7 linked regions of the Homo sapiens genome follow. The protein of the gene in region 1 purifies or fractionates together with the protein of each later gene. This does not show direct contact. Each region holds a gene or a part of one and is shown in the gene's direction. Other genes may lie near its edges. The genes, in order: ODF2, DSG1, ALDH1L2, MTCL1, ZC3H11A, SRSF10 and YLPM1.

What was found.
Region 2: the proteins of ODF2 (region 1) and DSG1 purify together in Homo sapiens (co-immunoprecipitation; one large-scale study listed by IntAct). This does not show direct contact.
Region 3: the proteins of ODF2 (region 1) and ALDH1L2 purify together in Homo sapiens (co-immunoprecipitation; one large-scale study listed by IntAct). This does not show direct contact.
Region 4: the proteins of ODF2 (region 1) and MTCL1 purify together in Homo sapiens (co-immunoprecipitation; one large-scale study listed by IntAct). This does not show direct contact.
Region 5: the proteins of ODF2 (region 1) and ZC3H11A purify together in Homo sapiens (co-immunoprecipitation; one large-scale study listed by IntAct). This does not show direct contact.
Region 6: the proteins of ODF2 (region 1) and SRSF10 purify together in Homo sapiens (co-immunoprecipitation; one large-scale study listed by IntAct). This does not show direct contact.
Region 7: the proteins of ODF2 (region 1) and YLPM1 purify together in Homo sapiens (co-immunoprecipitation; one large-scale study listed by IntAct). This does not show direct contact.

The regions. Positions count from the first base shown.
Region 1 is NC_000009.12:128,494,006-128,497,505, forward strand, and holds part of ODF2 (outer dense fiber protein 2), read left to right. Parts: intron 1-504; coding exon 505-663; coding exon of another isoform or gene 664-726; exon of another isoform or gene 727-835; intron 836-2,035; coding exon 2,036-2,136; coding exon of another isoform or gene 2,137-2,292; intron 2,293-3,500. UniProt on the Homo sapiens protein: Seems to be a major component of sperm tail outer dense fibers (ODF).
Region 2 is NC_000018.10:31,352,660-31,356,159, forward strand, and holds part of DSG1 (desmoglein-1 preproprotein), read left to right. Parts: intron 1-1,240; exon of another isoform or gene 1,241-1,277; intron 1,278-1,637; coding exon 1,638-2,687; 3' UTR 2,688-3,500. UniProt on the Homo sapiens protein: Component of intercellular desmosome junctions. Involved in the interaction of plaque proteins and intermediate filaments mediating cell-cell adhesion.
Region 3 is NC_000012.12:105,081,659-105,085,682, reverse strand, and holds the start of ALDH1L2 (mitochondrial 10-formyltetrahydrofolate dehydrogenase precursor), read left to right. Parts: upstream 1-1,224; 5' UTR 1,225-1,246; coding exon 1,247-1,294; intron 1,295-4,024. UniProt on the Homo sapiens protein: Mitochondrial 10-formyltetrahydrofolate dehydrogenase that catalyzes the NADP(+)-dependent conversion of 10-formyltetrahydrofolate to tetrahydrofolate and carbon dioxide.
Region 4 is NC_000018.10:8,704,268-8,708,355, forward strand, and holds the start of MTCL1 (microtubule cross-linking factor 1), read left to right. Parts: upstream 1-1,288; 5' UTR 1,289-1,393; coding exon 1,394-2,446; intron 2,447-2,490; exon of another isoform or gene 2,491-2,872; coding exon of another isoform or gene 2,873-2,998; exon of another isoform or gene 2,999-3,869; intron 3,870-4,088. UniProt on the Homo sapiens protein: Microtubule-associated factor involved in the late phase of epithelial polarization and microtubule dynamics regulation.
Region 5 is NC_000001.11:203,794,417-203,798,422, forward strand, and holds the start of ZC3H11A (zinc finger CCCH domain-containing protein 11A), read left to right. Parts: upstream 1-1,206; 5' UTR 1,207-1,378; exon of another isoform or gene 1,379-3,106; coding exon of another isoform or gene 3,107-4,006. Other genes in the region: ZBED6 (zinc finger BED domain-containing protein 6), read left to right, coding at 3,107-4,006. UniProt on the Homo sapiens protein: Through its association with TREX complex components, may participate in the export and post-transcriptional coordination of selected mRNA transcripts, including those required to maintain the metabolic processes in embryonic cells.
Region 6 is NC_000001.11:23,977,528-23,981,718, reverse strand, and holds the start of SRSF10 (serine/arginine-rich splicing factor 10), read left to right. Parts: upstream 1-1,391; 5' UTR 1,392-1,463; coding exon 1,464-1,528; intron 1,529-2,901; coding exon 2,902-3,006; exon of another isoform or gene 3,007-3,066; intron 3,067-3,090; exon of another isoform or gene 3,091-3,808; intron 3,809-4,191. UniProt on the Homo sapiens protein: Splicing factor that in its dephosphorylated form acts as a general repressor of pre-mRNA splicing. Seems to interfere with the U1 snRNP 5'-splice recognition of SNRNP70. Required for splicing repression in M-phase cells and after heat shock.
Region 7 is NC_000014.9:74,766,316-74,769,815, forward strand, and holds part of YLPM1 (YLP motif-containing protein 1), read left to right. Parts: intron 1-3,500. UniProt on the Homo sapiens protein: Plays a role in the reduction of telomerase activity during differentiation of embryonic stem cells by binding to the core promoter of TERT and controlling its down-regulation.

The DNA.
Region 1 (3,500 bases):
GGTGGTGTCGAACTCCTGACCTCAAATAATCTGCGCCCCTTGGCTTTCCAGAGTGCTAGATTACAGGTGTGAGCCACTGCACCTGGCTTGGAGTTAGACTAGACTTTAATCCTGTGTTTACCAGTTTTTAGCTGAATGACCTTGGGCAAATGACTTAGCTCTCTTGATGCTTACTATACTTGTATGGGGACAGCATCACCTATTTTACAGGTTGTCTGAATTAAATGAGCAAGTGTGCAGAGAGCCCCTGGTACAATGCCTGGGTCTTGGTGTTTACTGTGTGGTTGCCATTGTTACGGGATAACTAAATGAATGGCAAGCCACCTGCTCAATGGCCAGCGGGGAGTGTAGGCCACACTTCTGCTGTGGATTTTGCAGGATCCTCCACTGGGGACTGTGTCAGCCCTGCCCTAACTCTAAAGGACTCTGCCTGGCTCCACTAGGAGCCAGGTCTTTCCTAACTGTGGGTCTTTCCTTCCTGTGGGTCTTTCCTTCCTGTTTCAGGCACGAAGGCAGTTCCAGTCTCAGCTGGCTGACCTGCAGCAGCTCCCTGACATCCTGAAGATCACGGAGGCGAAGCTGGCTGAGTGCCAAGACCAACTGCAGGGCTATGAGCGGAAGAACATCGACCTCACAGCCATCATATCAGACCTGCGCAGCCGGGTAAGGGACTGGCAGAAAGGGTCCCACGAACTGACCCGAGCAGGGGCCCGCATACCAAGATGAGCTGCACGCCCCCCAAGGGAGGACTACTTCCTTTTTCTTGGCTGCTGCTTTTTAAAAGGAGTGAGCTATCATCAGTGCTGTGAAATAAAAGTCTGGTGTGCCAAATGCCATGTGTTTGCACAAAGTGATTGTAGTTATAGGAGCCGTCACTTGCGTGGAGTCACTGGGCCCTCCTGCTGTTGCCCCCACCCAAGACTGCTGCCTCTGCCTGTGTGCTCCGCAGCTGTCCTCAGCTCCACACCCACAGCTGGGAGATGCCAGCAGACACCGAGCCGTAGAATTTCTTTTTTTCTCTTGCTTTAGCTGCTTCTCCTGACTCTTTAACAGATGCACTGCCTGAGATTCTGTCCTGAAAGAAGCAAGCATCCCTTTCTCCCAGAAGCAGTCTGTCTCTGGGTTACTGGAACCATGCCTACGGCCTGCAGTGTCCAAGAAATTATATACCACTCATTTGCAGCGTGACCTTGGGCAAGGCCCCTTTCCCACTCTTGACGTGTGTACTTGTGATAATTAGAAAAGGGGCTACCATTTTTTGAGCACCTCTTCTGTGTTCCTGCATTCTCTCATTTAATTCCATCAGGAACTCTGTGAGGTGCATGTGTTATTTTCCCCATTTTACAGAAAGCAGCCCAAGGCATAGAGAGGAGAAGTAATTCCCCACCATCACAGAGCTAGTACCTAGTAAGCAGGGATTGGAACCCAGCCAGCTCTGTCTGGTTCCCAAGCCCACATTCTCAGTACTGTAACCTTACATTGCCTGCCTTCTCCGTTGAACCTGAGCATTCTCAGGGACTTTGAGCCTTGATAGCTGAGGCTTCTGCATAAAACAGCCCTCTGGGTAAATTCTCAAACTTGCCAACTCAAAAGGATTGACAGATTTCCTGTTGTCTTGCCTGCACTTGTCCCCAGTTAAGAGGAGGTTGAGATCAATAGTACCAGCAACATAACAGGTAAAGCTCTGTGGTTGGTTTGTATGGGCCAGTTAGCCCTGCCAGCTGTTTCTGCCTTCTCATGTCTGTCCTGGATCCTAGCTGGGTCTCTCTGAGTGGCCTCCCCTGATCGAGAAAGCATCTTTGTCATTCTTTAGCATCAAACCTGGTTTCTCCCAGTGTGGGGAGAGCCTTTTGTCTTTGGAGTTGGGCCTAACCTGTCCCTGCTGTCCTTTCTCCTCTAGGTTGTGCGTTGAGACTTGGACACCTGCTGAGGGCACTGTGCCCCTTTCCTGGGTGTGGACAACAGGTCATAGGGAAAGGGGAGGGCTCTAGCGGGAAATTCCTTTGTAAACCAGTCTGTGTTCCTGTCATTTTAGATCGAACACCAGGGGGACAAGCTGGAGATGGCGAGAGAGAAACATCAGGCTTCCCAGAAGGAAAATAAACAGCTGAGTCTGAAGGTGGATGAACTGGAGAGGTTAGAGGCACTTGGTCCCATCTCTGTCCTCTTCCTAGGACCTGAGACTTTCAGCCACTTAGCTGTTTTTTGCTTAGTGTGCGGAAGTGTTGAGGGACTCGAGGCCCTGGAAGGTACTAGGCAGACCTCAGAGGAAAAGCTGCTTCCATTTCAGTGGTAAGCATTGTGGGAGAGAGCAAGGGGGCCTCTCAGCCTGGGGAGACACTCCATGACAGCATGATCAGGATCTGCCCACCTGTAGGCACCACCTGTCCCAAAAGGCATGCCTGGTCCAGGCCTGCCAGGAGGGCCCAGTTTGAATGGAGCAGCCAGTATACTGTGGTGGGGGCACTTCCCCACTCTTTTCTGCCCTTTCTTGCCAGTCACCCTTCCCAAGACCTTTCTGATCTGACCGTTCTCTGTTATTTACGGATTGTTGGAGGCAGTCAGAGGTGAAGGGTACGGCTTTGGGAATCAGAAGCCCTGGCCTTGGGGCCCAGCTCTGCCACTTACCAGCATTGTGATCTTGAGCAAATCATTTAATTCCTTTGAAGCTCAATTTCCTCCTTTTGAGGAAAGGGTCAAGGTAGAGTTTATCTATCTATCTATCTATCTATCTATCATCTATCTATCATGTCACTCTGTCACCCAGGCTGGAGTGCAGTGGTGCAATCTCAGCTCACTGCAACCTCGACCTCCTGGGCTCAAGCAATTCTCCTGCCACAGCCTCCCAAGTAGCTGGGACTACAGGCGTATGCCACCATGCCTGGCTAATTTTTGTATTTTTTGTAGAGATGGGGTTTCGCCGTGTTGCCCAGGCTGGTCCTGAACTCCTGGGTTCAAGTGATCCACCCACCTAGGCCTCCTAGAGTGCTGGGAGTACAGGCGGGAGCCACCACACCTGGCTGATAATAATCTTTTCATGGTGGTGGTGTGAGTCTTCAATGATATAATCCTGGTAAAGGTCCTAGCATGTTACCTGGCATAGAGAAGCGCTCAGTATAGCTTAGAACATGTTATTAGTTAGCTGGTATTATCCCAGTTTTAAATATGAGGAAACTGAGCTTGGGGAGGAGTTAAGTGACTTTCCCAGCATCACACTGTTGGTACCTGGCAAAGCATGACTTAGACCCGTGACTGTCTTCCTCGAGAGCTTCTGTGAGCATCTCTAAGAGGTAGGCAAGAGGCCGGGCGTGGTGTCTCACGCCTGTAATCCCAGCGTTTTGGGAGGCCGAGGCGGGCGGATCACGAGGTCAGGAGATCGAGGCCATCCTGGCTAACACGGTGAAATCCCGTCTCTACTAAAAAAAAAAAAAAAAAAAAAAAATATATATATATATATATATATATATATATATATATATATGTATAAAATTAGCCGGGCG
Region 2 (3,500 bases), on another chromosome or scaffold:
TGCTCATTTCTTTTTATTCTTTTTTCTCTAAACTTCCCTTCTCGCTTCATTTCATTCATTTCATCTTCCATTGCTGATACCCTTTCTTCCGGTTGATCACATCAGCTCCTGAGGCTTCTGCATTCTTCACGTAGTTCTCGAGCCTTGGTTTTCAGCTCCATCAGCTCCTTTAAGCACTTCTCTGTATTGGTTATTCTTGTTATACATTCTTCTAAATTTTTTTCAAAGTTTTCAACTTCTTTGCCTTTGGTTTGAATGTCCTCCCATAGCTCAGAGTAATTTGATCGTCTGAAGCCTTCTTCTCTCAGCTTGTCAAAGTCATTCTCCATCCAGCTTTGTTCCGTTGCTGGTGAGGAACTGCGTTCCTTTGGAGGAGGAGAGGTGCTCTGCTTTTTAGAGTTTCCAGTTTTTCTGTTCTGTTTTTTCCCCATCTTTGTGGTTTTATCTACTTTTGGTCTTTGATGATGGTGATGTACAGATGGGTTTTTGGTGTGGATGTCCTTTCTGTTTGTTAGTTTTCCTTCTAACAGAGAGGACCCTCAGCTGCAGGTCTGTTGGAGTACCCTGCCGTGTGAGGTGTCAGTGTGCCCCTGCTGGGGGGTGCCTCCCAGTTAGGCTGCTCGGGGGTCAGGGGTCAGGGACCCACTTGAGGAGGCAGTCTGCCCGTTCTCAGTTCTCCAGCTGCGTGCTGGGAGAACCACTGCTCTCTTCAAAGCTGTCAGACAGGGACATTTAAGTCTGCAGAGGTTACTGCTGTCTTTTTGTTTGTCTGTGCCCTGCCCCCAGAGGTGGAGCCTACAGAGGCAGGCAGGCCTCCTTGAGCTGTGGTGGGCTCCACCCAGTTCGAGCTTCCTGTCTGCTTTGTTTACCTAATCAAGCCTGGGCAATGGCGGGCGCCCCTCCCCCAGCCTCACTGCCGCTTTGCAGTTTGATCTCAGACTGCTGTGCTAGCAATCAGCGAGACTCCGTGGGCGTAGGACCCTCCGAGCCAGGTGCAGGATATAATCTCGTGGTGCGCCGTTTTTTAAGCCCGTCGGAAAAGCGCAGTATTCGGGTGGGAGTGACCCGATTTTCCAGGTGCCGTCCGTCACCCCTTTCTTTGACTCAGAAAGGGAACTCCCTGACCCCTTGCGCTTCCCAAGTGAGGCAATGCCTCGCCCTGCTTCGGCTCGCGCACAGTGGACGCACCCACTGACCTGCACCCACTGTCTGGCACTCCCTAGTGAGATGAACCCGGTACCTCAGATGGAAATGCAGAAATCACCCGTCTTCTGCGTCGCTCACGCTGGGAGCTGTAGACCAGAGCTGTTCCTATTCGGCCATCTTGGCTCCTCCTCGAAACCAATTCATGTGATTTTTTTGTGTATGGTTTTATGTCCAAAGTACACAATTATAAATAAGTCCATCTAAGTAAATTTTTAAAATCATAGTATTAGAATTATACTTAAAATGATTTCTAACCAAATTATTTCAAATAATTATAAAATGATTTTTAGAGCATCTCTAGTATGTTAAAATCTTGTTTTATTTCATTCCTCTTTGGAAATGCTCTGGAAGAAAAACTAATGATAAAGGCTGTTCTATTATTGTTAAATATGCATTCATAATTTCATTTTCTCTTTCTCCTATAAATTCAGAAAGCATATGCTTACGCAGATGAAGATGAAGGACGCCCATCTAATGACTGTTTGCTCATATATGACATCGAAGGTGTAGGTTCCCCTGCTGGCTCTGTGGGTTGTTGTAGCTTCATTGGAGAAGACCTGGATGACAGCTTCTTGGATACCCTGGGACCTAAATTTAAGAAGTTGGCAGACATCAGCCTAGGAAAAGAATCATATCCAGACCTTGATCCTTCTTGGCCACCACAAAGCACTGAACCAGTTTGCCTTCCTCAGGAAACAGAGCCCGTTGTTAGTGGACACCCACCAATCTCCCCACATTTCGGCACTACCACAGTAATTTCTGAGAGCACCTATCCCTCGGGACCTGGTGTACTGCATCCTAAGCCTATTCTCGATCCTCTGGGCTATGGTAATGTCACTGTGACCGAGTCTTACACCACCTCTGACACTCTGAAGCCCTCTGTGCACGTTCACGATAACCGACCAGCATCAAACGTGGTAGTGACAGAGAGAGTGGTCGGCCCAATCTCTGGCGCTGATTTGCATGGAATGTTAGAGATGCCTGACTTGCGAGATGGGTCGAATGTTATAGTGACAGAAAGGGTAATAGCACCAAGCTCTAGTCTACCCACCTCTCTGACTATCCATCATCCTAGAGAGTCTTCAAATGTGGTAGTGACAGAAAGAGTAATCCAACCAACTTCCGGCATGATAGGTAGTCTGAGTATGCACCCCGAGTTAGCCAATGCCCACAATGTCATTGTGACAGAGAGGGTTGTTTCTGGTGCTGGCGTAACTGGAATTAGTGGCACCACTGGGATCAGCGGTGGCATAGGCAGCAGTGGCCTGGTTGGCACCAGCATGGGTGCTGGGAGCGGTGCCCTGAGTGGAGCTGGCATAAGTGGTGGTGGCATTGGCCTGAGCAGCTTGGGAGGGACAGCCAGCATTGGCCACATGAGGAGTTCCTCTGACCATCACTTTAACCAAACCATTGGGTCCGCCTCCCCTAGCACAGCTCGAAGTCGAATCACAAAGTATAGTACCGTGCAATATAGCAAGTAGTCAGGACCCCAGCTCACTTTTTCATAGTCATTGTGGTTTAGATCCAATTCCCACCACTAAAAAACCAACAATGTGATTTATAACGCACAACTTCGTGCTCAGGTCATCTAGGAGCAAGGTGAGAAATCACAATGAGAAAAATAAATGGAAACACCACTGCTAGGGGAGAGCTCTCCTTAGCATTCATAAACTTTTCTCTTATATTAGGACTAAGGAACTAAAACTTGAGGCAGAGTCTTCTTTGTGCCTGAGTGGCCTGTAGTCCATCTCCAGCATGTAACTGGCCTTACGATGGCAATTGGCATCATTCTCCTTGCTCTGTTTTGCTTTTCCATATAGCTCGAGCAAAATTCAAAAAGAACTAAATATGCAATATATGTTCATATCTATGGGAAAAATCTAAAATGTGTGCCAGATGCCCTGTTGGTTTCACAGATAACATAAATAAAAATTCAACCACAGATTTATACAAGGGTTAACCATTTTTTTTAAGTTTGACTACATAGTCAAGTCCACAAGCCATCAAGCACTCCTACCTTAATTATTGCACTAGAGAAAATAAATTCCAAATTAGGAAGTGTTTCCTAGGAGGAAAATTCCATTAGAGAGTGGCAATAGGATGAGGTTTCTTCAGGGTAAACTAGCAATGCCTGAGCCTGAACCTTAATGTGGGGCCTCAGTTAAATCTCCTGTGGAGTCAAGGATTCTTCTGATTCTAGTGTGTGTTTAGTGATAGATGTAGTCTTGACGAATATTGCTTACTGGTGAGGTTGAGGAATATCACACTCGTCTTTCCCTTTACCACTGTGGTTT
Region 3 (4,024 bases), on another chromosome or scaffold:
GTGCCAAGATAATTACAAGTGACAGATGACAAGCTTTTCTGGGAAACATTGTCCAAGAAGGAATAGGCAAGAACTGCAGTCAAGCAGAATTACATATGCAAAAGAGCAGTGAGAAATAAGAGAAAATGGCAAATTGCAGACGGCCCTGAATGCTGGGCTAAGAAGTCTGGCTTGAGATAAACGTCCAGCTAAAGCAGGTCTGAGCGTTTTTTCCAGAGAGGTGAGGGAGAAGGGCACGTATCTATTAGGTTGATGCAAAAGTAATTGCGGGTTTGCCATTATTTTCAGTGGCAAAAACCACAATTACTTTTGCACCAATTTATTTATTTATTTTTAAGACAGAGTCTCGCTCTGTTGTCCAGGCTGAAGTGCAGTGGCATGATCTCAGCTCCACTGCAACCTCCGCCTCCCCGGCTCAAGTGATCCTCGTGCTTCAGCCTCCCGAGTAGCTGGGACTGCAGGCATGCGACATCACGCCCGGCTAATTATTTTATTATTTTATTATTTTTTATTTTTAGTAGAGACGGGGTTTCACCATGGTGGCCAGGCTGGTCTCGAACTCCTGAGCTCAGGCCATCTTCCCTCCTCGGCCTCCCAAAGTGCTGGGATTACAGGCGGGAGCCACCGCGCCCGGCCTACCGTCCTACGAGGTAGGCATCAGGATCCCTCCACAGCGAAGGCGCCCCCACTACCTATCTGTCTACAGGCGTGCCTTTTACGGGCTGTGCTATGGACAGCACTTGGGATGTCAGATTGACCACTAATAAGGTAGATCCGTATACACTGCTGCGGGGCTGAGTAACTGGTAGAGGGTCCCACAGTTAGAAAGCACCTGGACCTTGGCTGGAATTGGCGGAAAGTCCAGGCAGCGGAGAGGCGCGGTCCCTGGGACTGGGTGCGCTCTTGGCACCAGGGTCAGGGCCCACAGGCTCCAGGAAGCCCACGCGCTCCGCCGGGTCGCACCAGGTTGGCTGTCCGAACGCAGCCAGCTGGCGGGGCGGGGCCTTCCAGCTGGGGGCGGGGTCTTGACAGCTAGGGGGCGGGGCCTTGCAGCTGGTAGGGTGGGGCGGGCCGCGGGCTGTGGGCTTTGGGAGGGGTGCGGACTAGCAGAGGCCGAGAGCGGCGAGCCGCGAGCCAGGCAGTCCGGGGCATCCAGACTGCAGGCCGCGCCCAGGCCGCGCCCAGGCTGCGCCGCCCGCCTGCCTCCCGCGCTGCCGCGTCGCCAGTGCTAGCGCTCCTCTCCAGCATGCTGCGGCGGGGCAGCCAGGCGCTCCGGCGCTTCTCCACTGGCCGGGTGAGTCCGGCCCGGGCGAGCGTCCCGGCTGTCACCCTGTCCTGGTTTCCAGACTCCGGGGCGGGAGGGCCGGGGCGGTGGGGCTGGGGATGAGCAGCGATGCTTAGACTTTGCTAAACACCAAGACAGCGTTTAAAACAAACAAACAAACAAACAAAAACAGAGAGACCTCAGAGGAGGGCTTGGGGAGGGTCCCGGATGGGAACTGGCACGCAGGCCATTGTCTTCTGCCGGGAGGGGGCTGAGGATGCAGTTTTTGGACGTGTCAAGTCTGGCTGGGATGGCAAGGTGGGAACAGTCACTTGGTAAGGAGGACAGAGTCTGCTTCCTTTCCTTTTTCACTTCAATCATGAGATCCCTGGTCAAGAGCTGGAGCCATATGGAACCGAGACTGTCTCCTGGAGGAGGGGAGTATCAAGTCAATAGGGTCCTCGTTGGCGGCCTGGGAGGTGTAAGCGCTCGAGACTGGCACGCAGGGCCGGTTCAGATAATGGCACTCAAAGCTGATGGCTGCAAGCTCAGTATTCCTGAGCTGAGCTGCAGATGGCAAAATTTCTAGAATTGCCAGGCGCTGCAGAGGCAGCCACGCTGGAACACTATTCTACTGTAGCACAAGAACCGAGCTCTGGCCCAGCCCCGCGCCTTGGAATTGCATCAGCTCCTCCAGAAATGGAACCGAGAGAGGACACGTTGCACTGCGGTGCTGCCTTCAGCACCCAGGGGGCCTCGGGACTGTTTAGGGAAGAGAGAGAGAGAAAAAAAAAAAATAAAAACTGTCTTATGTATCGTATCTTTTATAGGAAGTACATAAAAGAATTTGCTTATCGATTCTTTTTCTCGGCCATGCCAAAGCCATATGTACATATGTATATATTCAGATGTAAAAAACTTGGAGGCAGAGAGAAGTCTTGAGTAGCACCAAAAACTGGCCCAAACTTGCATCAAAGGAAAAGCTTTCTGTATCCCAGACAACCCCAAATAATAAGAATTCGTTTTACTCTTTGCAACCAGTTCTAGTTACTTTGAGGTATAGTCACCTTTTATAAAACGAGGGGTGGGGGTGGGGAAGACCTGCTCTGCTAGGACTTTGGCCTGCTCTCCTGGACCCCTCATTAGCTTCCCCCACCACGTGGCACATGGGATCCCAGATGGATAGCACAGAAAGCAACGGGCTGTGCCCAATGCCTGAGCCTGTTTTGTTGGCCTCCTCTGTCAACACCTTTCACTGACTTGTCTTTTTTGGTGACCAGAAGGAAGTCTTGCAGAATGAAAAGATTTTGATAGTGCGGTTTGCATAAGATTTCAGTAATAAAAGGTAAACATCTCAGGTGGCAAATGGCATAAACAAAACTATGGATGTGGGGAAGAACTGGCGTGATCAGGGTCTAACTGTACGCAGGGGTGCATATGGAAAAGCAGTGATACTCATGGCTGGGAAGAAGACAGTTTCCTCAGTGGTCGAAAGGAAGCTACTGAGTGGTGAATGAAAAATGTGGGATGTTTTATCCTGTAGAAAATGTTCTGGACTGTGTTTTATAAGAATTATTCAAAATCAAACAGATACATGGCTGGTGGAAATATAAAATGGTACAGCCACTTTGGAAAACTGTTTGGCAGTTTTATATGTAGTTAAACATAAACCTATCATATGACCCCGGAATCACACTCCTAGGTATTTACTCAAAAGAAATGAAACCTTATTTGCCCGCATAGAAACCTGTTTATTGATGTTTCTAGAGGTTTTATTCATAATTGCCAAAAACTGGAAATAAATTGTCCTCAGCTGGTGACAGGATAAACAAGCTGTGGTATATCCATCCATACAATGGAATTCTACTCAGTTGGGGGAAAAAGGAATGAACTACTGATGCATACAACATGGATGGAACTCAAATATGTATGCTAAGTGTAAGAATCAGACTCATAATGCTACATATTTTATGATTTCATTTATCTGACATTTTGGAAGAGTAAAACTATAGGGACAGAAAAAAGATCAGTGATGTCTGGAGCTGGAGATAGGAGGAAGGATTGATTATAAATAGGCATAAAGGAATTTGGGCGGTAATGGAACTGTTCTACATCTTGATTATGGTAGTGGTTACGTGACTGTGTGTTTGTTAAAACTCACAGCACAGTACACTGAAGAGGGTGCATTTTACCCATGCAAATTATCTTTTAATTTTTATTGTTTTGAGACAGAGTCTCACTTTGTCACTCAGGCTGGAACGCAGTGGCACAATCTTGACTCACTGCTACCTCTGCCTCCGGGGTTCAAGCAATTCTCCTGCCTCAGCCTTTTGAGTAGCTGGGATTACAGACATGCACCACCATGCCCAGCTAATTTTTGTATTTTTAGTAGAGACGAGGTTTTGCCATGTTGGCCAGGCTGGTCTTGAACTCCTGGCCTCAAGTGATCCTCCTGCCTCGGCCTCCTAAAGTGTTGGGATTACAGGCATGAGCCACTGTGCCCGGCCTAATTATCCCTTTATCTTTAAAATTTAAAAATCAAACAATGCTTTTAAGTTTAGTATTAAAGCAGAATGAAGGATGAATAAAAATAAAGCTTTCAGAACCTAGCAAAATCCAAGGGGAAAATTAGTTTATAACACTTCTTGATAGAATTCATTTCTCCATCCTCTGTCTTAAATAAAAGGACTTAGAAATACTTAATGATTTCAGCTTAGTGATGGCTGGATCTTTTTAACTAAAACAATGGTTTGCTTTAAA
Region 4 (4,088 bases), on another chromosome or scaffold:
TTACAGTTTGCACGGTGTGTTCTGGTATTTGCTAAATCTTCACACATGCTCAGGTGGCAGTACGTTTTAATGATACAGGCGAGGGAACTGGGGCTCAGAAAGGTCTAGTGCCTTGCGCATGGGAGACTCAAGTGGTAGAACCGGTGGCCGGGCTCCGGGCTCTGAGCGGAAAGCCTGCAGGACTCGGAATCCTGAAGACCTGGGTTTAAACCCGCTCAGCTAGGGACTGGGTGAGGCATCGCAGGCAAGTGACTTCACCTCCCAGCGCCGGTGCCCTAGTCTTCACCGAAGACAGCAATTCCAATCTGGGACTGTGGTGAGGCTTAAATAAAACACTGCTCAGTAAGTGGCCAGCAGGCCTGGCTCGCAGCCGGAACTATAAATGTGAGTTCCCTTTCTGACCCCCAGGTTTGGCGAGGGCTCCTCCTGTTTGGGCAGCAGCTCCTCCTGAGCTCCCGAGGCCACGGGGGTGCCAACTGTGGAGCGCCCGCCGTGCCGTTTAGACGCGAGAGCTGCGTCGGGTACCAGCGATCCTTAAAGGAGCTCGGGGACCAGGGGCACAGCTTGGAGAGGACAGCGAGGGAGGTGACTGGCCTCGGGGAGGCGGGCGGTGGATGGAGAGGCATGAGAGGGGTGTTGTCAGCCGCGGCACACGCCTTCCCCAAGTGGCCGGCGCCGCCCCTTGCCACCACTTCACCTCCGCCTCTTCCCTTCCTCCCTAGCTCCTGGCAGCGTCTCTAGGGCCTCAAAAAGCAAGGAGGGTCCCCGGGCAGCGAGGCCCCATGGATCCAGCCTGCGCCTGCTCCCAAGGGCGCGCAGGTCCCGCCCCTGCCGGGCGCCCGCCCCCCGGGGAGCGCAAGCCCCCGCCCCTTCCCTCGCCCCTCCCCTGCACGGCGCCGGCTGGCTGGAGGCGGGGCATGCGCACGGGCCTGGGCGAGGGCGCTGGGCGGCGGGGAGGTGGGGCGCGCGCGTGCGGCTTCTCTCAGCCGGGAGCGGCGGGGGCGGGCACGGGCAGCAGCGGGCCGGCGGTGGGCGGGGAGCGGGACGCGGGAGCCGGGCGCGCGCCGCCAGCGCCGCCGCGGCACCGGTGACCGCGAGCCCGGAGCGCGAGGTCCGGGGATGCGAGCGGCCGGGAGCCGCCGCGCTGCTGAGCCGGGAGAACTCGATCCGCGGTGACCTCAGCGAGGGGCGAGCGCGGCGGCGGCGAGCCCCGCGGGAATCCTCGGGGCCGGGGTGCGGGGGGCGGGGACGGCGGGAGCGCGGGGCGCAGCCCGGGCGGGGCTGGGACAGTGATGAGAGAGCGCGCGGGGAGGCTGCACGCCGCCGCCGCCGCCGCCGCCGCCGTCGTCGTCCGGAGCATCTGCTGCCTGAGCTGCTGCCGGCGGACCCGGCCATGGAGACACTGAACGGCCCCGCGGGCGGAGGTGCCCCGGACGCGAAGCTGCAGCCGCCCGGCCAGCACCACCGCCACCACCACCTCCACCCGGTGGCCGAAAGGCGGCGGCTGCACCGTGCGCCCTCGCCCGCCAGACCCTTCCTCAAGGACCTGCACGCCCGGCCCGCCGCGCCCGGCCCGGCCGTCCCCTCCTCGGGCCGAGCCCCGGCTCCCGCCGCCCCGCGCTCGCCCAACCTCGCGGGCAAAGCGCCGCCCTCGCCGGGGTCCCTGGCCGCGCCCGGCCGCCTCTCTCGGCGCAGTGGCGGCGTCCCGGGCGCGAAGGACAAGCCCCCGCCGGGCGCCGGGGCCAGAGCGGCGGGCGGTGCCAAGGCTGCCCTGGGAAGCAGGAGGGCGGCGCGCGTGGCGCCCGCGGAGCCGCTGTCCCGGGCTGGGAAGCCTCCCGGAGCCGAGCCGCCGTCTGCCGCTGCCAAGGGCCGCAAAGCCAAGCGCGGCTCCCGGGCGCCACCCGCCCGCACCGTCGGCCCCCCGACCCCGGCCGCCCGGATCCCTGCCGTGACCCTCGCGGTGACCTCGGTGGCCGGGTCCCCGGCCCGCTGCTCGCGCATCAGCCACACGGACAGCAGCTCCGACCTCTCTGACTGCCCCTCCGAACCCCTGTCCGACGAGCAGCGCCTGCTCCCTGCCGCCAGCAGCGACGCCGAATCCGGCACGGGCTCCAGCGACCGTGAACCCCCACGAGGAGCGCCGACGCCGAGCCCCGCAGCCCGAGGAGCGCCGCCGGGCAGCCCCGAGCCCCCAGCGCTCCTCGCCGCGCCCCTCGCCGCGGGCGCCTGTCCCGGGGGCCGGAGCATCCCGAGCGGGGTTTCGGGGGGTTTCGCGGGGCCCGGCGTGGCGGAGGATGTCCGGGGGCGCTCGCCACCGGAGCGACCAGTCCCCGGGACCCCCAAGGAGCCCAGCCTGGGCGAGCAGTCTCGGCTCGTGCCAGCGGCGGAGGAAGAAGAGCTGCTGCGGGAGATGGAGGAGCTGCGCTCGGAGAACGACTATCTCAAGGTGAGCCGCGCCTCGGCCGCAGGTGTCCCGGGGCGCCCCCGGAGGGCCTGGCTGCGGCGGGGACCCGCCAACCCCTCCTTCCCGGGCCTGTCCAGCGCCTTCTCCCTCCTGCTCTCCACGGTCCTACCCCCGCATTGTCAGGCATTGGCAACTTAAGCCCAAACTTCTGGAAGGAGAAGCAAGACCTGTGGGACCCCGCCAGTTCGCAACCCACTTCTCTTTTCTCGCGTCTAGAACTCTTGCGTCTCTTCGCTGATACTTTTACTTTTGTTGACCTGTTGGGGCAGAGGAGGCTGTAATCGTTTTGGGGACATCAGCGGACGCCCCCATCCCCGCTCAGAACGTGCCAGCCTCACCTGTAGGAACAGGTGATCCTTCGCCAGGGAGCTCTAGCCGGGCCACGTGCGGGCGTGGCGGTTCAGGATAATGCCACTGGAGGGCCCCCGGCTACGGACCCGCTTGCCCCTTCTCCTGCAATTACGGAAAGAGCTGGGGGCTCTCAGGGTCTCCTGGGCTCCGACATCCCGGGTAGAGGGGGCCGCGCCGTTTTCGGTGAGCAAGCTGAAGCTCAGTAGAGGTCCTTGGAGTGTGGCCCGGGTTGAGGAGCAACGGTGTTGCGCGGGCCAGTCCTTTGTAAGCATCCAGGAGCCGGCTTTCTGTGTCAGGAGAGGCCACGCCAGCACTTTCTAAGGAATCGCGGCGCCTGCTGCACTCTCTGAGTATTTTCCGGCAGGGCCTGCGGGCAGTGGCGTCTTAGTCGCCTTAGCACTGGGTGCTTAATCCGGCTCCATCTTTTCTCCACGGAGGGGGCCTGGTGCTGCAGACGGGGTTCCCGGGGTCAGGACGATCCAGGTGACTTGAGAGAAAATAAGGGGAGTTGTATTGACACCAACTGTTTTATTTATTGTGATCTTCAGGTTAGTAAACAACTCCAGTGGCATCAATCTGTGTATCTGTTAAGTCTTAATGAGCAGCCAACCAAACCCAGGGGTGTGGCCCTGCTTCTTCAGTGGGTTATGTGATTTGAGCTGTTTTCTCAGCAAATGATGAGCTAACCAATACGGGCCCAGTTTTTGGCTAGTGAGATTGAGGATTGGGCTTTAAGGTGCATGGTGGTGAAGTCTGCAGTTCACACGGAAATCAGAGCACATTAACTGCTGGGTGATCTCAAGCCTAAATTTCTTATGGAGCTGCTCCAACCAACTGAGCCTTGTGGTTATTTTACTTTGTGCAAGAAGTAACAGTGAGGCAGAGAAAGAGAGGTGATAAAAGAAAGATTGGGACTTAAAGCAAGATATTTCAGATAGTATGTTTGTTTTTGTCACTTACTCTTAGGTAATAGACAACGGAGTGAAGTTCAAAGGCAACTATGTTGTGGGTGACTCCATCATGAAAGCAGCTCTTTTGTAAATCTTCAACAAATGTAAGCTCCCTGAGGGTGACCAAGATAATCTTGTTGTTTTTGTATCCCTGGCTCTTAGCATAACCCCTGACTTACTTTCTGATTGAATGATGTTTATCCAAATGACTGCTGTGCAAGGGAAAACTGTATTTCTTTAAAGAAGTTTCTCATTGCATCTTTGATCTTAAGGTAGGCTATCCATCATTTTGAAGTTCATTCTTGGTGCAACTGGTTATTTCC
Region 5 (4,006 bases), on another chromosome or scaffold:
TCCCATCTGCTTTATCATCAAGTGTTTCCTTTCTTAGTAGCACAACTATATCCTTTACCCAAGTTAGGTAAAATGTTGCCACCTAATTAGAGTTCTGCTGAGCCACTACCCCAGGGGGACCTTGGGCTCCTATTATATGTGTAATATATTTAAGTATATTTTCAGTGTAAAAGCCAGAAAGGATATATGGTAAGTTAATGAGAGCTATTTCTCAAGAATGAGATTAATAGAGATTTTAACTTTCTACTCTCTATATTTCTGTATTGTTTCTAAAAAAACTTACGTGTATTAAGTTTTTTACTTTTTTTTTTTTTTTTTTTTTTTGAGATGGAGTCTTACTCTGTCGCCAGGTTGGAGTGCAGTGGTGCGATGTCAGCTCAATGCAACCTCTGCCTCCCAGATTCAAGCGATTCTCCTGCCTCAGCCTCTCGAGTAGTTGGGACTACAGGCGCGTGCCACCACGCCTAGCTAATTTTTGTATTTTTGGTAAAGATGAGGTTTCACCATGTTGACCAGGATGGTCTCGATCTCTTGACCTTGTGATCCGCCTGCCGAGGCCTCCCAAAGTGCTGGAATTACAGTCGTGAGCCACCGCACCGGCCACGTGTATTACTTTTATAACCGGGGGAAAAAGTAAAAACATTCAAAAGGGAAAATAAGGGACAATGTTAATAATGAAGCAGGGATGAGACTGCTGATTGCGACCTCCAACTAACTCTCCTGAATTTTGTCACGAGCATGAATTACTTTTCCAATACACAAATTTGCTTTAAGAAATCAAAGAAACACCCCCCCAAAGCCCAATCTCACTTCTTCAAGTAAAAAATAAACTAACAAATCATTCTACATTGCATGCTTAGGAAAAGTACAGTTTATTTCTAAATTAAATGTATACATGGTTTGGGAGATTTACTCATTAAGCAAACACTTTGGTAAGAATAAATTGAGCGCTTACTGAATGGCAGTCTCAGTTCCTGCGGCCCTCCCGCTTATTACCTCATTTGATTTAAAAACAAAAACAAAACGTTATGAAAGCCGGCTTCGAGGCATTCCTCTGAAGGGAAGGGACTCCCCGACCCAGCGCCTCCCCCGTCACGTGACCCTGTGACCCGGAGCAGCCATCTTAGGCATCGCCTCATAGAGGAACTACATCTTCCAGAATCCTCGCGCCCTGCGTCGTGCTGGCACTTTTACCGGCCGGGCCTTAGAGCGGAGCCTGTAGCCAGGCGCCATCTTTGACGCTGGCAGTCTTGGTTTTCTGCTAGTGCTGCTGCTGCTGGGAGGACGACGGACGGCAGCGGCCAAGCAAGAAGAAAGACGTGGCAGCAAGCGGGAGTCGGGGATAGTGTCATCGGTTCGGTAAAGTTTCTGTTCTCTGGTAACTAGACCCGTTTTTTTGATTCCCGGGTGGCTTGGGGCCGGGGAGGTGGGGGAGAGGGCGAGGGGAGTGGCAGCGGCCTCCCCTCGCCCCTGGGTCGCGGCCTATCCCGGGAAGTCAGAGCGGATCCTTCAGCTTCGCCGTAACGACCCCTCCCCCCCACCTCCCGGTCGCGGCCCTCGCCGGGGCTGGCTGGGAGCCCCAGGCTCCCGCTCACTTTTCCCATCCTCCCCACCCCCACCCCGTTCACCCCACCCCCACGGCGCCTGCTCCTTTCCCAGCCAACCTTCCTCCCCTCCCCCACATCCGGTGTTCGCTAATCTCGAGGAGCCCGGAGCAGCCCCGAAAACCGACTGTTCCCCCGAATCCCGAAGAGAGAACTGACACTAGATTGCTTTCTTCGGGGCAACAGTTTCTCTAGTTGAGCGGACCCTCACTGCCTAAATCAATCAGACTGAGTGCCGGGCGCTGAATTTACCTACTCTCATTCCTCTCCAGGGTCCCGGTACTTTGGAGCTTGTCTCAAACTCCACATACAGAAAGCCACCGACCTTATTCCGGTATCCTACACCCATTCCCCACTCTCATTACACTCCCACCCCTGGCCCTCAGCGTCGGAGTCAAGAGCAACAGGGACACTTCCGTTCTCCTTGTAGGACTGGTGAAACCGTAATGAAGAACACCCCTAAACTCCCATAATCGGTGCGGATTCCTATGGGGAAGGCCTATATTGTTGACATCTTCCAGGCCTTGGTTCTGGACCTTGAGAAAGAGGCTGTGGAACTAGAGATAGCGATGCTTTTTAGGGTAAATGTATGTAGGTATTGGGGGAAGGGGAGGGATCAATCGAAAAATGGAAGTGGTTTAAAGTTCATATTTCACTTTTTGCTATCTCTATAGCGTACAACTTGTGAGTTACTTACAGGCTGTAAAAGCTTCTCAAGTCTAAAAATATCTGAAAACTAAACTTGAATTAACTCTTAATACAAACAGTACTTTGAAAATGCAGCATTTAACCTTGTTTTAAAATTTTTTTCTCAAAGCATTTTTTTCCAGCCACTCACATTTTAAAAGGTTGTATTACTTTTAGTTAGAACTGAAAGGGCTCAACTAGCATTTGCTGTGACCAGTATGCGGAGTCTGTGTTGGCTTTCCAGAATTGACTTTTTGGGTTGTATTGGCAAATCACAGTCCTAAATGATGAATGTTGAATGATGCACTATGTTTTTGTTTAAATGAGATTTCCTGAAAATAGTTAATTTCAGAATTAAGGGAAATTGATGTCGCTATCATGAGGCATCATAAAAATATGTATTTTACAAGGTGAAGGCATTTCAAGTAGATATAGTTCTTGATGAAGCAGGAAGAACATGGATCTGGGATTTGGAAGACCTGGCTTCTAGCTGCTACTAACCAACTCTGTGACTCTGGGAAAGGGGGACTCAGTTCTTACTTCTGTAACATGAGGACACTGGACTATTTGAATTCAGAACTTAGAAAATTGGAAGGGACCTTAAAGCCCTCTAAGAAAGAGTTCGGGAATGTTCTCCATTGCTGTCAGTTTTCCTCCAAAAATAACCTGGCTTGGAAGTTATTGGTCCAGTGGGAATTTGATTCCCCATAGAAACTGGAGAAAAGGTAATGCAAGTAGAGAGGAACAGCTGTATTTCTGCTTGAGTAATAAACCCACTAACAGATTCTGGTACGAATTGTGGAGACATAAAGAGAATGAGTGTATGTACTCTAAGTGTACCAGTTTCTTCACTCTCTCCTGGCAGAAGATGCAACACTTTTAGTGATTCTGGGATTCTGGGATGTGTTCCTATTAATTCTAATACAGATGAAGAAGATGTGGTAGAGGAAAAGATGGTAGCAGAAGGAGTGAATAAAGAGGCAAAACAGCCTGCTAAAAAGAAAAGAAAGAAGGGTTTGCGAATTAAGGGGAAAAGGCGTCGAAAAAAATTGATTCTTGCCAAAAAGTTTAGTAAGGATTTGGGATCTGGGAGGCCTGTTGCAGATGCCCCTGCTTTGTTAGCTTCCAATGACCCTGAGCAGGATGAAGAAAGTCTTTTTGAGAGCAATATAGAAAAACAGATCTATCTACCTAGTACTAGAGCCAAGACCTCCATTGTGTGGCACTTCTTTCATGTTGACCCCCAGTACACCTGGCGGGCCATTTGTAACCTCTGTGAGAAAAGCGTCAGCAGGGGTAAACCAGGTAGCCATCTTGGTACATCTACTCTTCAACGACATCTGCAAGCAAGGCATTCACCTCATTGGACCAGGGCCAACAAGTTTGGAGTTGCTAGTGGAGAGGAGGACTTTACCTTGGATGTGTCTTTATCTCCCTCTTCTGGAAGCAATGGAAGCTTTGAATATATTCCTACTGATCCATTAGATGATAATAGAATGGGCAAGAAGCATGATAAATCAGCATCTGATGCCCTAAGGGCAGAAAGAGGGAGATTTCTCATCAAAAGTAACATTGTCAAGCATGCTTTAATTCCTGGAACTAGAGCCAAGACATCTGCCGTTTGGAATTTTTTTTACACTGATCCTCAGCACATCTCAAGAGCTGTGTGTAATATATGTAAAAGAAGTGTGAGCCGGGGTAGGCCAGGGTCCCAC
Region 6 (4,191 bases), on another chromosome or scaffold:
TGTGCCACACGCTGGAGGCATTCCAACTGAAGTCTCTCATCTCCAGAAGTTGACTCTTATCGAGCAGGAAATGGCTCTCAAAAGGGCCTCCAAAATCAAAACCATACTAAAGATTATTTGCTATTTTCATGCTCATTCTCTTACAAACGTGGAGTTTTCCAGAGGGTACATGATGTGTGATAAAGGGTAGTGGAGTGTGTCAAAGTTTTCTCTATTTTTTTTTTTTTTCTTTTTTGAGACGGAGTCTCACCCTGTCGCCCAGGCTGGAATGCAGTGGTGCAATCTCGGCTCACTGCAACCTCTGCCTCCCGAGTTCAAGCGATTCTTCTGCCCCAGCCTCCCAAGTAGCTGGGATTACAGGCGCGCGCCACTACGCCTGGCTAATTTTTGTATTTTTAGTAGAGATGGGGTTTCACTGTGTTGGTCAGGCTGGTCTCAAACTCTTGACCTCGTGATCTGCCCGCCTCGGCCTCCCAAAGTACAGGGAGGGATTACAGGCGTGAGCCACCGAGCCCAGCCGAAGTTTCCTCTATTTTAAGTTCTCATTAACTATTTATTAATAGGTATAACCCACACTTTTTTTAAAAAAAGCTCTTTGGAATCTTCCGTAATACACAAGAATATAAAGGCGTTCTGAGACCAAAAAGTTTGAGAACTGCTGCAATACAGGTCCGATGCATACCCAGGAAGCCGTCAGCAACAAAGAATACACTACAAATGACCACAGTCATGAACCTACAGTGTGAGGTTTGGTCCCACCCAGGTTGGGAGCCAAATGCGTGACTAAGTGGAGATGGCTAGGGTGTGGGTGAGGGGCAAAGGCAGGCTGAAAACACTGGAGAGACAGGCCCAGCTCTGCGCAAGGGCACACACCTCCTTCCTTTACACACTCAATACAAGCTGTAAATCCTTCTTTCGCAGGTCAGGGCATAACCTGGACCAAACGGGAAATTTAAGGCAAAATAAAAGCAGGACATTAACTTGGACCAACCGGGAAATTTAAGGCAGCCTCTCTGAACTAAATAGTTTAAAAATCTGTCCATTTAGTAGTAACCGCAAAGTTTGGCCTAGAGACTAAAACATCTGCTTCCTGATTTGGGGGTGGAGATGAAGTGGAGTGTAAGGTAGAAAACGGCGGGAAATGAAGACCTAAAGAAAGAAAGAACAGGCTTGGGGGAGGGTAAGAGGCACCGCAAGAAGCCAACGAATGACACCGACGCTGAGGCGCGTGCGCCAGCCCTCCGCATGCGCAGGCGGACGCCTGGTGTTCTCGCGGGAAAGAACCGTTGCGCCCGACTTTGCGCGGAGGTAGGAGGGGGAAGTGGAGGCGGGAGTGAAGTCTCGCGAGAAGAGTCGGTTGCCGTAGCAGAGCCCTCTAGCTGTGTGTGTCTGAGGCTCGGCCGCCTGAGCCGCGGACGGTTTGCTGAGCCCGTTAGTGCGCCCGGCCGAGACACGCCGCCGCCATGTCCCGCTACCTGCGTCCCCCCAACACGTCTCTGTTCGTCAGGAACGTGGCCGACGACACCAGGTAGGTACAAGGCAGGTACTCCGGGCCTAGGCGGGGAGGCCGCAGGCGCCTGGAGAGGACCCTGGTGGTGGCGGCACTGGGCCGGGGGAGGGGACGGAGTGAAGATGGCGGGTCCCGCGCCCGCTTTGGCGCCGAACTAGGCCGCGCAGCGGGCCTCAGCCGCCGCGTGGGAGCGAGGGCGGCGCCTCTGCCTTCGCCGGGCCGCGTGGCGGGGTTTTTCGGTCCCCCTCCCCCTCCGCAGTTTGCAGCCCCTTTCTCCCTGCTTCCTGCCGGCGCGAGCAGCCCCCCGCCGCGGCCTTTCCGCGACCCGACGGCCGCCCCCCATTGATTTGAAGTTCACATTCTTCGAGGTTCACGCCCCCTTGGCCCAGAGATTTTTTTTTTTCCCCAGCCAAAAAATAGTGAGATGAAATAACGGGATCGAGGGAGAGGAATGTTGCTACCATTTATCTTTGTTGTTGTTGCCGTTGTTAATATTTGGGGGTTTTAATCAGTTGGAGGTGTTTGGAGAAAGGGAGCGTTGAGATTTGGGGAGTTAGATTTTTCCAGTTAAATGTTGCGAGTAGTTTTTCTTATTTCCTGGAAATTCTGGTCACCCTTTGAAAAGGGAGGTTTGGGAAGCGTCAGTCATTAGGACGTTGACAGCTAAGTTAGATTAATTCAGACGTACCTTAAATAGGCTTTGTTCTCACCATTCCCTTGTTTCGAGTTGCCTTCAGATTATTTTGGAAGAGTTCTTACTACAAGATGAGGCTTTTTATTTCACAAATAATGAATCTACACACAGAAAATAAGTGGTTTGGGTTTTTGGTGTTTCGTGGGGGTTTTTTGCTAGCTTTGTGATTTGCTTTTGTCTTAAATTTAAGAAGGAAAGAAAGCAATAATTCTTTCCATAAATAATTCTTTCCATAATTTCTAATAGTTACGTTAGCATCTAGAGAAATTTTCTCTTTACGTCATCTTGACACTTAACTATTTAAGAAGTTCGATATTTGTGACTTTTTCAGACCATATTTATCTACTGTTAAGTGTGTAAATCTGTCGCTAAAATTGGGGAGTAAAAATAAGTGCTTGGTATTTTTCAGAGTGCTAGAGTCGATTTGATGCTGTAAAAGTAAAAAAAAAAAAAAAAACAAGGCTTATATACAACCTAATGCTGCTGTACCTTTTATGAAAAATGACGGCTGTAGATAAAAATAAGTTGTGGTCATTCCCTTGTACCATACATATGTCTGCTGTTGTCCTGTTAATGTAAACTGCATTTTTATCTTCCAAATTCTTGGATCCTAGCTTTCCTTCATCAAAAAGATATATTGCCTATACATCTTAAGGACTTGGACATAAAAATTTGAGGTCTTTTTATGATGTTTTAGGTCTGAAGACTTGCGGCGTGAATTTGGTCGTTATGGTCCTATAGTTGATGTGTATGTTCCACTTGATTTCTACACTCGCCGTCCAAGAGGATTTGCTTATGTTCAATATCCTTTCTTCAGATGGCTGATTAGTGAGGGGTGTTGAAGTTTGAAATTCAAGTTTATGTAAGTGGTAACATCTAAAAAGTAGTTCTTTTTGTCCTCTAATAAATGTCTGTCTTCAAATTTTTGAAAATTAATTCTGACTCACACATTGCTCTCGTTATTAAAGTTAATCCAAAAATGGTAAAATATATAAATTCCCATTCATGCTTCTGAAACTCATATCGATGATTATATATGTGATTTAAATTTGAATGCACTCTGGTTGCTACTACCTTTAATGTAAGTCCTTTAAAAGTTAATATGTTCTTGTGCTTAGCAATTAAAATTTGGTATTCTTGTTTGTTAATTTGAATCACTTGATCAAAAACAAATTGTATAACAATGAGGTAAACTTCTTTAATATTGTCCCCTAATTTGCTGTCCTCTGTTGTTACCTCAGAGAATGTAAAGCTGTACAGTTATGGCGACCCCAAAGAGAAAGCATGAAAGAACCTTTAGAGTAGAGTTCAACACTTAAGGCAAGTAGACAAGCCAAAGACCTCTTAAGGATCAGGCTTGAAGAGAAGGGAGAGTTTGGGAAAAGAAAAAATAAAGAAAAGCTGGAAGAAGGACAAGCCTAATGGGAGACAAAGCCTCGCTTTATCTACAAAAGGGGGAAAAGGTTGTTTTTCAAAGTTAAAGATAAAGCCATCTGTCATATTTGGCCAAGCATCTCATGACAAGTCCTTCTGACAAGCACTTAAAGAGTTAAAGGTCAAGATGAAGTTGAATGATGGCCAAGATTAAAGGAGTCATACCTGATGTATCCTACAGAATAACTATTTTTCTTTTTTTTTTTTTTAATGTTTTGTAAGCAGTTAATTTTCAAAATTATTCTGGTTTGGTCTAGTGACAAAACCTGTAACTTGATTTATGTGGGCCTTTGATGTTGTGATTGTGGTCTTGTGTAAATGCACTCTCTCTTATGAAGTTAAAGTGTAACAGGATGTATATTCTTAAGATTAAATTCAGCATATTTTGGTTTTGGACCAGGTGGTCAGATGCCACGGAGTAGCAGGCAGTGCTCTTTGGAGTAGCGTGGGGTTCTGGGGTTAAGCCACAGAGCCCTGCTTAAAGGAGAGACAGGTGCATGCACTGGGGACTACTTAGAAACAGCTCTGGTGGTCTTGTAGGGTCAGAACCACT
Region 7 (3,500 bases), on another chromosome or scaffold:
TCATATTTTGTTTTTGGAATGTGTCATTCAAAATTTCTTATCGTGAAATATTTTTAAAATACACAAAATAGAGAAAAAAGTATGATTCCCCATACATACCCATCATTGAGATTCAACAGCTATCAAGATTTTGCCATGTTTACTTCACCTAGGCCTTTTTTATTATTGTTGCATATATATATATTGAGACAGGGTCTTGCTCTGTCAGTCACCCAGGGTGGAGTGTAGTGGCATAGTCTCAGTTCACTGCAACCTCTGCCTCCCAGGCTCAAGCCATCCCAAGTAGCTGGGACTACAGGTGCATGCCACCATGCCTGGCTATTTTTTTTTTTTTTTTTTTTTGGTAGAGACGGGGTTTTGCTATGTTGCCCAGGCTGGTCTTGAACTCCTGAGCTCAAACAGTACACTGCCTTGACCTCTCAAAGTGCTGGGATTATGGGCATGAACCACCACACCTGGCCTCTGCTGAAATATTTTAAAGCAAATCTTAGATCTTATGTCATTTCATCCCTACATTCTTAGTCAAGTACCTCTATAAAACAAAACAAAACAAAACCAAGACCTTTTCTTTTTTTTTTTTTTTTTTGAGATGGAGTCTCACACTGTTGCCCAGGCTGGAGTGCAGTGGCGCGATCTTGGCTCATTGCAACCTCTGCCTCCCGGGTTCAAGCGATTCTCCTGCCTCAGCCTCCTGAGTAGCTGGGATTACAAGTGCATGCCACCACGCCTGGCTAATTTTTGTATTTTTAGTAGAGACGGGGTTTCACCATGTTGGTCAGGCTGGTCTTGAACTCCTGACCTCATGATCCAGCTGCCTTGGCCTCCCAAAGTGCTGGGATTACAGGCGTGAGCCACCGTGCCCGGCCAAGACCCTTTCTTAGATAAACACATTGTTAACACCTAACAAAGTTAACAGTTTCTTGGTATCATCTAATACCTGATCCGTTCAGATTTCCTTTATTGTTTCATCATACTAATGAACTAAAAATAATTCTTTGATACCATCCATGTTAAAATACCCCAAATTGACTCAACAGTGTTGTTGTTTTCTGTCCTCACAGTCTGTTCCCAAACAATGTTTTTTTGGTGTGTTCAAGTCAGAGTCCAAACAGAATACTGAAAAGATTCTTAGTATAGATCAGGGTTTCTCAGCTTCGGCACTATGGACATTTTGGGCAGGATGATTCTTTGTTGTGGAGGGGCTTGTCCTATGCATTGTAGGATGTTTAACAGCGTCCCTGACCTCTACCCATTAGATGCCAGTGGCAGCCCCCAGTCCGACAACCAAAAATGTTTCCACACATTGCCAAGTATCCCCTGGAGACAAAATTACCCTCTGTTGAGAACCCTTGACCTAGGTCAGTCCCTCCTATTTTCTTTTTCTACCTCATGTCTTTGAACTTGATGAAAAATCTGTTGTCAGTTTTCCTGTAGAATGTCTGACATTCTGCATTGTCTGCTTTTTCATGGTGTCACATTTGACTTGTTCCTATGTCTTCCACATTTTTTTTTTTTTTGAATTAGAAGTTAACTCTGGAACCTTCATTTAAGTTCAGCTTTCTTTTGGCAAGTGTTGCATTCCTCATGGGACACCCGATGCCTGGTTGTCCCACTGTTAGTAATGCCATTGGTCCCTCTACTGTAAAGCTTTCTATCAATCTTGCATCTAATGTTTCAGTCTACTGGTTCATCAATTGAAGAAAGACCTTGCCTAAGTAAATTATTTCATTAGACAGAGGTTGCAACCTGGTGATTTTTTTTTTCTGCCATTTCTTCCACAGTTACTATATGGAGTTATGTAAAGAAAAACTTTTGCCACAGATATTTGATTGGAAATACAGTTGGTATAGGAAGGACAAGATAAATACTTGATATTTTTCCAGGTGTTTTCTAGTTTTTCGGGTAAAGTGTTGATGATTTAATGGAATGTGTTTTTTTGTTTGTTTGTTTCTGAGAGAGAGTCTCACTCTGTCGCTCAGGCTGGAGTGCAGTGGTGAAATCTCGGCTCACTGCAACTTCCACTTCCTGGGTTCAAACAATTCTGCCCTAGCCTCCCAAGTATATGGGATTACAGGTGCATGCTACCATGCCTGGCTAGTTTTTGTATTTTTAATAGAGATGGGGTTTCACCATGTTGGTCAGGCTGGTCTCGAACTCCTGACCTCAAGTGATCCACCTGCTTCGGCCTCCCAAAGTGCTGGGATTATAGACGTGAGCCACTGCGCCCGGTCGGAATGTGTCTTTTTGAATAATTAATTTTTCTATGTGTTTAAAGGACTGATTTATTTAGTTAAAGCTGTTGGCTTTGATTAGTTTTTAGAGGTATCATTTATTTAATGTTTAAATACTTACGGACTAGCAACTATGTGCCAGGTACTATGAGTACTGTGCTTAATACTGGAGATGAAATGGTTAACAAGATAGACATGGGACCTGCCCTCATTGACTTCTTGTTTCAGTTGTGGGGGAAGGGAGAAGACATTTAGTAAGTAATTAAGAGGAGACGTACAGAGTGCTATGGGATTATAAAATATCACTAGATTATTCCCCAAGGAACTGGCAAAGGCAAGTTTTTTGTTTTTTGTTTTTTTTTTAAGTTACCACTGTATTCACAGTACCTTGCATAGGATCTAGCGCATAGGAGGTGGAGAACAAATATATTTTAAATAATTGAATATAGCTGGGAGCGCTAACCTAATTAAAGAGGATTCCCTTTGTAAAGTGATATTTTTTATTTTTTATTTGTTTTTATTTTATTTTATTTATTTTTATTTTTTTGAGATGGAGTCTCGCTCTGTTGCCCAGGCTGGAGTGCAGTGGCGCGATCTCGGCTCACTGCAACCTCCGCCTTCCGGGTTTAAGCAATTTTCTGCCTCAGCCTCCCTAGTAACTGGGATTACAGGTGCCTGCCACCACGCCCGGCTAATTTTTTTGTATTTTTATCTTTTTTTTTTTTTTTTTTTTTTTTTTTTTGGAGACGAAGTCTCACTCTTGTTGCCCAGGCTGGGGTGCAATGGCACGATCTCGGCTCACTGCAACCTCTGCCTCCCGGGTTCAAACAATTCTCCTGCCTCAGCCTGCCTCAGCTACTCCCAGGAGTAGCTGGGATTACAGGCGCCTGCCACCACGCTTGGCTAATTTTTGTATTTTTAGTAGAGACGAGGTTTCACCATGTTGGCTAGGCTGGTCTCGAACTCCTGACCCCAGGTGATCTGCCTGTCTCAGCCTCCCAAAGTGCTGGGGTTACAGGTGTGAGTCAGAGTGCCCGGCCATTTTTTTTTGTATTTTTAGTACAGAAGAGGTTTCACCATCTTGGCCAGGCTGGTCTTGAACTCCTGACCTCGTGATCCACCTGCTACGGCCTCCCAAAGTGCTGGGATTACAGGCGTAAGCTGCCACGCCGGGCCTGTAAAGTGATATTTAAATGAACTCTAAAGAATAAGTAGGAGGACTGGGTGCTCACACCTGTAATCCCAGTTCTTTGGGCTCATTAGAGGCCG